2 linked regions of the Homo sapiens genome follow. The protein of the gene in region 1 purifies or fractionates together with the protein of each later gene. This does not show direct contact. Each region holds a gene or a part of one and is shown in the gene's direction. Other genes may lie near its edges.

What was found. Proteins that work in one complex are often made in the same cells at the same time.
Region 2: the proteins of CALR3 (region 1) and FAT1 purify together in Homo sapiens (affinity purification with mass spectrometry, with the first as the bait; one large-scale study listed by BioGRID). This does not show direct contact.

What each region holds. Positions count from the first base shown.
Region 1 is NC_000019.10:16,485,324-16,490,596, reverse strand, and holds part of CALR3 (calreticulin-3 precursor), read left to right. Parts: intron 1-26; coding exon 27-230; intron 231-5,273. UniProt on the Homo sapiens protein: During spermatogenesis, may act as a lectin-independent chaperone for specific client proteins such as ADAM3. Required for sperm fertility. CALR3 capacity for calcium-binding may be absent or much lower than that of CALR.
Region 2 is NC_000004.12:186,712,935-186,718,207, reverse strand, and holds part of FAT1 (protocadherin Fat 1 isoform 1 precursor), read left to right. Parts: intron 1-5,273.

The sequences.
Region 1 (5,273 bases):
CCTTCATGAGTATATTTTGTTCAAAGGTCTGCAAACCACTCAGAATGGCCGATTCTATGCCATCTCTGCACGCTTCAAACCGTTCAGCAATAAAGGGAAAACTCTGGTTATTCAGTACACAGTAAAACATGAGCAGAAGATGGACTGTGGAGGGGGCTACATTAAGGTCTTTCCTGCAGACATTGACCAGAAGAACCTGAATGGAAAATCGCAGTACTATATTATGTTTGGTGAGTTTACGTGGTGCAACACAACCACTTCTAGTGACTTTGAAAACCCTCCCACTTCACAGGATCTTTAGACTAAGACTTTGCTAATGTAGTGAAGGTAGTAGTATTGAGTATATCGGATCCAAGGTTTGTAGTAGTATTGAGTGTATCGGATCCAAGCACTATTAAGCCTAATTAATATAAAAAGGCAACTGTACCAGTCTGTTGTGTTCCTGAAGAAGTTATTTATTCACCATTAATGTTGCCCTCATGCAGGGTAAGGATACCTTATCTGAAATGTTTGGGACCAGAGTGTTTTGGATTTTGGAAATTTTTTTTGGATTTTGGATTATTTGCATTATCCTTACTGGTTGAACAACGCTAATCTGAAAAATCTGAAATCCACAATGCTCTGATGAGCATTTCCTTTGAGCATCATGTTGATTCTAAAAGTTTTGGGTTTTGGAACACTTCAGATTTGCGATTTTTTGATTTGGGATGCTCAACCTGTGTAGTTTTTTTGTTTGTTTGTTTTTGTTTTTGTTTTTGTTTTTGTTTTTGTTTTTGTTTCGAGCCCGAGTTTTCACTCTTGTGAACCAGGCTGGAGTGCAATGGCAATGGCTTGATCTCGCCTCACTGCAATCTCCGCCTCCTGGGTTCAAGTGATTCTCCTATCTCAGCCTCTTGAGTAGCTGGGATTACAGGCATGTGCCACCATACCTGGCTAATTTTTTTGTATTTTAGTAGAGATGGGTTTTTTTTTTTTTTGAGACAGAGTTTCGCTCTTGTTGCCCAGGCTGGAGTGGAATGGCATGATCTCGGCTCACTGCAACCTCCTCCTCCCAGGTTCAAGGGATTCACCTGCTTCAGCCTCCCAAGTAGCTGGGATTACCGGCATGCACCACCATGCCCAGCTAATTTTTGTATTTTTAGTAGAGACGGGGTTTCTCCATGTTGGTCAGGCTGGTCTTGAACTCCCGATCTCAGGTGATCCGCCCACCTCAGCCTCCCAAAGTGCTGGGATTACAGGCGTGAGCCACTGCACCCGGCCAAGATGGGGTTTCACCATGGTGGTCAGGCTGGTCTCGAACTCCTGGCAGGTATCGAACTCCTGACCTCAGGTGATCCACCCACCTTGGCCTTCCAAAGTGCTGGGATTACAGGCGTGAGCCACCACGCCTGGCCTCAACCTGTGTTTTGAATCCTTCAGTACTCAGTAAACCTTGGCCGTGGGCCAAATTGGCCCACTGCCTGTGTTTATATAACCTGTGAACTAAAAATGTTTTTTACGTTTTTAACTGGTTGGAAAAAATCAATACAAGATGATATTTTGTGATACATGAAAATTATATGAAATTTAGATTTCAGTGTGCATAAATGAAGTCTTACTGGAATGCAGCCTCACTCTGTTCATTTATATGTTGTCTGTGGCTGCTCGCCAGTACCAGTGGCAGAGTTAAGTTGTCATGACAGAGATCATTAGGCTTACAAAGCCAAAAATATTTTACCATCTGGCCTTTATAGAAAAAGCCTGCAAACCTCTAGAAAATATTAAATGTCTCCTGACAACAGGGGTACTTGATTAAAATTTGTGCTAGAACTGGGAAGGGACCACACTGGGCCACAGGAAATAGACCTAAGTATAGTGTAACTTAAAACTTTAATAATAAATGTACCTCAGGCCGGGTGTCGCGGCTCACACCTGTAATCTCAGCATTTTGGGAGGCCAAGGTGGGCAGATCACTGGAGTTCAGGAGTTCAAGACCAGCCTGGCTAACATGGTAAAACCCTATCTCTACTAAAAATACAAAAAAAATTAGCCGGGCATAGTGGCACATGCCTGTAGTCCCAGGTACTCAGGAGGCTGAGGCAGGAGAATTGCTTGAACCTGGGAGGTGGAGGTTGCAGTGAGCCGAGATCTCACCACTGCACTCCAGCCTGGGTAACAGAACGAGACTCCATCTCCAAAAAAAGAATGAATGTACTTCCAAAATATTCATCCTCAGCTGGGCACAGTGGCTTATGCCTGTAATCCCAGCACTTTTGGGAGGCCAGGCAGGAGGATTACTTGAGTCCAGGAGTTCGAGACCAGCTTGGCCAACATAGTGAGACCCTGTCACTACAAAAAATAAAAATTAGGGCTCTGTGCGGTGGCTCACGCCTGTTATCCCAGCACTCTGGGAGCCAGAGGCGGGCGCATCACCTTAGGTCGGGAGTTCGAGACCAGCTTGACCAACATGGAGAAACCCCGTTTCTATTAAAAATACAAAATTAGAGCCGGGCGCGGTGGCTCACACCTGTAATCCCAGCACTTTGGGAGGCCGAGGTGGGCAGATCACGAGGTCAGGAGATTGAGACCATCTTGGCTAACACAGTGAAACCCCGTCTCTACTAAAAATACAAAAAATTAGCCAGGTGTGGTGGTGGGCACCTGTAGTCCCATCTACTCGGGAGGCTGAGGCAGGAGAATGGCCTGAACCTGGGAGGCGGAGCTTGCAGTGAGCTGAGATCACGCCACTGCACTCCAGCCTGGGCAACAGAGTGAGACTCCGTCTCAAAAAAAAAAAAAAAAATTGAAAATTAGCTGGGCGTGGTGGCGCATGCCTGTAATAATCCCAGCTACTCAGGAGGCTGAGGCAGGAGAATCACCTGAACCTGGGAGGCAGAGGTTATGGTTAGCCGAGATTGCACCATTGCACTCCAGCCTGGGCAATGAGAGCAAAAATCCGTCTCAAATAAATAAATAAATAAATGATACAAAATACAAAATAAAAATAAAAATAGAACTAAAAAACACCCAGATATCTGAAACATCAAGGGAGGATCACTTGAGCCCCGGAGTTTGAGACCAGCTTGGGCAATATAGCAAGACCCCATCTCTACAAAATGTTTTTTTTTTTTTTTTTGTGGAGACACAGCTTCGCTCGTCGCCCAGGCTGGAGTGCAACGGCACGATCCCGGCTCACTGCAACCTCTGCCTCCCAGGTTCAAGCGATTCTCCTACCTCAGCCTCCCAAGTAGCTGGGGTTACAGGTGCCCACCACCATGCCCAGCTAATTTTTTTGTATTTTTGTAGAGACGGGGTTTCACCATGTTGGACAGGCTGGTCTCGACCTACTGACCTCAGGTGATCCACCCACTTTGGCCTCCCAAAGTGCTGGAATTACAGGCGTGAGCCACCACGCCTGGCCCCATCTCTACAACAATTTTAAAAATTAACCCAGTGAGGTGGCGCACCCCTGTGGTTCTAGCTACTCAGGAGGCTGAAGCAGGGGAATCCCCCGAGCCGAGGAGTTTGAGGATGCAGTAAGCTATGATCACACAACTGCACTCCAGCCTGGATGACAGAATAAGACCCTGTCCGAAATAAATAAATAAATAAATAAAGACCCCTATATAGCATGTGTCTACTACATCTGAATTGCCAAGCAGCATAATTTGGGGTCAAAAAAAGATTAAAATAAATTTTTCTTAGTATTTCAGTTTTTAATTCAACAGTTCCATTTTACTCAAACCCACTCTGTTACTATTGGGACACTTTGTTGCAATGAGTCAGCGCCAGCCATTAGTGTGAGGGGAGCTTGCTGAGGGTGAGGGGTTAAGGAGGAGGACAAGGGAAGCACAGTTATTGTCAGTCTTGACATTTGCATGAATTCCTATGCATAAGTTATGCATAAAACCTCAGACAGGCAACACAGAGCCCATCTGTCTACATTTCCTCATGAACATCCATTACATGTGTAAATACCTTTTTTTTTTTTTTTTTTTGAGATAGAATCTTGCTCTGTCACCCAGGCTGGAGTGCAATGGTGCAATCTCGGCTCATTGCAACCTCCGCCTCCCAGGTTCAAGCCATTCTCCTGCCTCAGCCTCCCCAATAGCTGGGATTACAGGCGTGTGCCACCATGGCTGGCTAATTTTTGTATTTTTAGTAGAGGTGGGGTTTCACCATGTTAGTCAGGCTGGTCTCGAACTCCTGACCTCGTGATTCACCCGCCTCAGCCCCCCAAAGTTCTGGGATTACAGCCGTGAGCCACCATGCCCAGCCCACACTTTTTTTTTTTTTTTAATTGAGACGGAGTCTCGCTTGGTCACCCAGGCTGGAGTACAGTGGCCCGATCTCAGCTCACTGCAACCTCCACTTCCTGGGTTCAAGTGATCCCCTCACCTCAGCCTCACAGGTCCCTGGGACTACAGGGACACGCCACCACTCCCAGCTAATTTTTGTATTTTTAGTACACACGGGGTTTTACCATGTTGGCCAGGCTGGTCTCAAACTGGCCTCAAGTCATCTCCCCACCTTGGCCTCCTAAAGTGCTGGGATTAGCAGGCCACTTTGAATATTTAAATAAGCTTCAGAACACACTCAAAAGTGAGTGGAAAGCCAGGACATTGTCCTTTAACAACAATAATAAGATATTCACACATGTGACCAGATGCAGTGGCTCACACCTATAATCTCAGCACTTTGGGAGGCCAAGGCAGGCAAATCACTTGAGGTCAGGAGTTTGAGACCAGCCTAGCCAACATGGCAAAACCTGTCTCTACTAAAAACACAAAAATTAGCTGGGCCTGGTGGTACATGCCTGTAATCACAGCTATTCTACTCGGGAGGTTGATGCAGGAGAATCACTTAAACCCGGGAGGCGGAGACTGCAGTGAGCCAAGATCCCACCACTGCACTCCAGCCTGGGCGACAGAGTGAGACTCTGTCTCAAATAAATAAATAAATATCTTAGTGTGAATATCTGATTATATGTAAGAAGAATGGACTGCACGTGGTGTTTCAAGCCTGTAATCCTAGGACTTTGGGAGGCCGAGGCAGGTGGATCACAAGGTCAGGAGTTTGAGACCAGCCTGGCCAGCATGGTGAAACCCCATCTCTACTAAAAATACAAAAATTAGCTGGGCATCGTGGCATGCGCCTGTAGTCCCAGCTACTCAGGAGGCTGAGGCAGGAGAATTGCTTGAACCCAAGAGGCAGAAGTTTCCGTGAGCCAAGATCACTGCACTCCAGCCTGGGTGACAGCAAGACTCCGTCTCAAAAAAAAAAAAAGAATGGTT
Region 2 (5,273 bases), on another chromosome or scaffold:
ATTTTAAGAGGAGGAGGGAAGATGGACTTTTCTCCCTGAAGATTTCCGTTTTCTTGCTGTACATGGAACATTCACTTTCCTGGTCTGTCATTTAGTGAAGGGTTGACCGAATCTAATTATACAGGGAGCCCAATTCAACGTATAAAATAAAGTCTTACTTACCAACTTGGGAGTGGAAGAAGTGGCCATTGTTGATTATTGGCTACTCTGCCAAGATGTCATTTAAATTACTTCTGTTTGTGGAGAAAAATACATTAGATGAGATGATCTCCATTCACAAGAGGTCAACAGTCCATTGAGCTTCTCCTTGGGCAAAGTTTGTCCTGGAATGTGGATGAGGAGAAAGTGGTTGGAGGATAAGGAATATATAGAGAGGGGAAAGAAGAGAATAGCACAGGAATGCCTCACCCTGCCAGAAATAGACACACAGCCGCTGCCTACCTGTCCTGTCTTGTCGTTCCCAGGAGCACAGAACAACTAGAACCCGTCATCTTCGTAATGCCAACAGACATGTTTTATAGGTTCATGTAGATAACTAGGTTTTATATAGAGGCTGTTTGAAAAATAGGACATCTGTTTATCTTTCTTAAGGGCAGGAACACTTCAGGAATCTATTTTGGATTGATTAAATCATGTACATGGTGAAGTTTTCTGAAAAAGCCAGATTGTAGTTCCACACTGTCATTGTCAGTAAAGACCATTCTCAGGGTTAAATTGGAACCGGTGGTTGATCATGTGAAGGCAATATTTAAAGTATGTCTTGCTAGAGTTACCAGATTATTGCAGCCCCAGTCAAAGATAACAACATATAAATGGAGTTAGCAGAAGTGATTAAATGACATATACCAAGCCTAAGGCTGCTGCTCAATTTCTAGGGTCACAGCTTCCTCCGTTCATGCTGAAAATCATATGAAGATGGGTTGAAAAGAATTAGTGTACACCCAGAAAATAAACAGGATCTACTCATTAGTATTTCAGTGTAAGGATGAAAGCTTTTAAAAGTACCGACATGGCTATGATAATTGAACTAGAAAAATAGAGAGTTTTTTTTTTCCTGTTGTAAATTTTATTTGGAATGTCTGAAATTTTAGAAATCATTCAACATTCTTTTTAATATACAGTATTTTTAAAAAGCCATTTACGCTGGGTGCGGTGGCTCATGCCTGTAATCCCAGCACTTTGGGAGGCTGAGGTGGGTGGATGACTTGCAGCCAGGAATTCGAGATTAGCCTGGCCGTCTCTACTAAAATACAAAAGTTAGCTGGTCATGGTGGTGCATGCCTGTATTCCTAGCTACTCAGGAGGCTGAGGCATGAGAATCGCTTGAACCCAGAAGGCAGAGGTTGCAGTGAGCCACGATTGCACCGCTGTGCTCCAGTCTAGGTGACAGAACAAGACTGTCTCCAAAACAAACAAACAAACAAAAAAACTCGTTTACAATTCATAATCTCTTGACAACTTCATGATCCTGCTTTGAAAATGTGTTTGCCGGCCAGGCCCAGTGGCTCACAACTGTAATCCCAACATTTTGGGAGGTCCAGGCAGGTCGATCAGTTGAGCTCAGGAGTTCGAGACCAGCCTGGGCAACATGGTGAAACCCCATCTCTACAAAAATACAAAAAATTAGCTGGGCATGGTGGTACGCCCAGGTACCCCGGAGGCGGAGGCGGGAGGATCACTTGAGCCTGGAAGGTTGGTGCTGCAGTGAGCTATGATGGTGCCACTGCTCTCCAGCCTGGGAGATAGAGCAAGACCCTGTCTCGGGGGAAGAAAGATGCTTGCAATTTAGAGATCTCTTAAAAATACTTTAAAAATGTGACACTGAACTGAACTCGAAATTCCAAATTTTAATCATGAGTTAAATTCTACTGACGCTTTCACTATGTTGATAGAAAATGAGAGTGGAGAAGAGCACAGTGAGGGAGAACACAGAGTTCTCAACTTAATAATTTTGTGTTTTTATCATAACATGTGAAATGAAAAGTTTAATAATGTCCTGTTCCATAAAGGCTAGAATGACTACTTGTGCTTGTAAGAATTGTGACCGCTCAGTAATAAATATGCGGCGTTTAACAGAATTGGTGCATTGTGTGATGCTGTGTCTCACCTAATGTCCTGTCTCTGTGGCGTGTGAAACCCTTCGAAGACTTGAGCTTGAGGTCATCTAAACACTTGAATATATGCAGTTAGGTTTTCAGCACAGGGGCTGTGTTCTGTTTTGTGAAGAATGTGCAGTCACAGTAATTGATGGAAGCATTTTACATGAAGGTCTCCCTAATGAAGAAATATGAAGATATTAATATCTGATTTTTACTGCAAAAGTTATTTTTCTGCCGTATTTATAGATTTTCAGAGATCTATGCTAAAGATATTTAAGCTTTAGACTGGGAGCCCTTCTCCTTCAAGGCTAGACTAAGTAAACACTCTTTGTTTTGGCTTCGGAAAATGCATTTTAGAAATCCCAAATTGCAGTGAGTTTAAGTAGTGTGATCACCTTCTAAATATCAAAGTATAGCCCTTGGCTCAGATGGTCTTTGGAGTTTAATTTCCATAAGCAAAGGAGTCTAGGCGATAAGGTCCTTTTTAGATGAAATGGTGTTGGAGTCTCTCCCCGCTTCAGCTTTACTGTTTGTTTTGCATGAGAGCCACAGCCATTGTTTTGATCAGGGTGGTTTTTATAGTGAAACCTGAATTCGTGGTTCTTGGTTACATTACTGCACGGTTAACAATGTCTTCCAAAAAGTGTATTTTTTCATTTAATAATTTATTCTACTCACAGTAGCATTCTGTTAGCCAAGTTTGCAGAGTACATTCAGGTTTTTCAAAGATTTCAGTTAGGAATGTGGTCCACAAGTCCGTCCCAGCTGTATTGTGTCCCGTGAGAACTGCTGAGTAGGATGTGGAAGGTAATTGCATGTTTGGGAATCCAGTTGGGGATGAGTGGGTGGTGGTGGGGGCTGTGGTGGGACTGAGCACCTGGGACAGCATGGGGAGAGAACAGCCAAAGCAGTCTGACGTGTTGGCCATGGTCTGTGTGTCTTAGGGGATGGAACAGTGCCAGAGCCTTCTGGTGGGGGGATGGAGGGGGAAGCAGCGTGGCGCATCAGCAAGTACTTTTTTTTTTGTTTTTGAGACAGAGTCTTGCTCTGTCACCTAGGCTGGAGTGCAGTGGTGCGATCTCAGCTCAGTGCAACCTCCGTCTCCCTTGTTCACGCGATTCTCCTGCCTCTGCCTCCCAAGTAGCTGGGACTACAGGCGCACACCACCGCACCCAGCTACTTTTTGTATTTTTAGTAGAGACAGGGTTTCACCATGTTGGCCAGGATGGTCTCGGTCTCTTGACCTCGTGATCCGCCTGCCTCGGCCTCCCGAAGTGCTGGGATTACAGGCGTGAGCCACCGCGCCCAGCTGGATTAGTGAGTATTTATATTATATAGAACTCCAAGTTCTAATGTTAGGCTTCAGCTGTAGAAAAATCTTTATTTACTCACTGTTTCTTATCACACCACTATGCTGTGGTTCCCTTTCCTCCCTCAGTGGCCGACATCTCCCCTGTCAGGGCCTCCCGTTTGGACCCTTCAAATCTTGGGGTTCTGCTCTTGGATTTTTTTTTTCTTCTGCCTGCTCTCTTCCTTGGTGATCTCATTCAGTTCTGTGGTTTTAAATACCGTCTTTCATATTTAGACAACTCTCAAATTTCTATCTGCCGGCTGGAGTCTCCCACATATCTGCTGCCCACTCACAATCTTTACTTGGATAGCCCGTAGCTGTTCCCATCTTACCCTGTCCAAAACTGACCTCCCGATCTGCTCCCTGAGGCTGCTTCTCCTCCTGTCTCCCTCTCGGTTCCTGGCCCCCTTGTTCTCTACGCTGAGCAGTCTTTGGCATCTTCTCTGGTACTGTTCTCTCCTCCTTTCCCTCCCTCTCCCCACTCCAGCATCAGGCAACCTTGAAATAGATTCACAATCTGCCCCCCACCCCCGTTGTGCCCCAGCCCACACGCGCTCCACCTGTGTTGTGGCTGCAGCCTCTGACTGCTCTGGTCGCCCTCCAGCTTCTGCCCTGGCTGCCCACAGGTTTTTCCATTTTACTGAGACCGTGGCACTCCTCGGTTCAGAATCCGCTGGGGGACTTCTCATTTGATTCATACTAAACTCTAAAGTCCTAAAAATTGTCCTTTATCCATGAGTCCAGACGGATCTTGAGAAAAAAAAAGATTCAGGTTGGATGCAGTGGCTCACACCTGTAATCCTAGCAGTTCGGGAGGCCGAGTTGGGCAGATCGCTTGAGCCTGGGTGTTTGAGACCAGCCTGGGCAACGTGGTGAAACCCCGTCTCTATAAAAAATACAAACATGAGCCAGGCGTGCTGGTGGTTCCTGAGTATGTAAAATTCTGTCAGTCTAAATCTACAGACGCACCTATAGTCCCAGCTACTCAGGAGGCTGAGACGGGGGCCCGGAAAGCTCAAAGCTTCAGTGAGCCGTGATCGCGCCACTGCACTCCAGCCTGGGTGAGAGAGCGAGACTCTGTCTAAAAAAGAAAAAAAATTGAATAAATAAATGGAGGAAGATAGACAAATCAGTTTCTAGAAGAATTATAAATATTTTGAGTAGCGAAACTCTCTGTCTCTTAAGAATGGGCTACATGCAGTGACTTCCTTACCAAGAATACAGTACAGGGAGGGGTGAAAGTAACCTGACTGTGAGGAAACCTGGCAGATACTACCTCAGTCACGTGGTCAGGAGCAGCGTCAACATCGATAAATCGTGTTGATTTTACCCGCTTGCTACGGTGTGGTGGAAACGACTCTACCTCTGTGGCTTTTCTCCCCAAAACAGAACCCCAATCTAATCAGGAGAGAAACGTCAGATTCCAGTTGAGGGACATCCTACAAAATACCTGACTAGTACTTCTGGAAACTGTCCAGATCATTAAAAGCAAGGAAAATCTGAGAAACGTACATTCCAGAGGAGCCTTAGGAGACATGACAGCTAAATGTAAGGTGGTGTCTTGGAAGGGATTCTAGGATGGAGAGAAGGCCTTGGGTAAAATGAGCAAATTTGAGTGAAGTATGGACTGTAGTTGATGATGTGTCAGTACTGGTTTGTTAGTTGTATCTAGTATAATGTACTAAAGTGAGATGTTAACAGTAGGGGAAGCTCTCTTTGCAACTTTTCTGTAAGTCTAAAAGCATTCTAAAATAAGGTTTATTTTTAAAAAGAACCCCCTTCATGATAGGTTCTCTCCCAGGATGTGCCCCGGCCTTACCGCT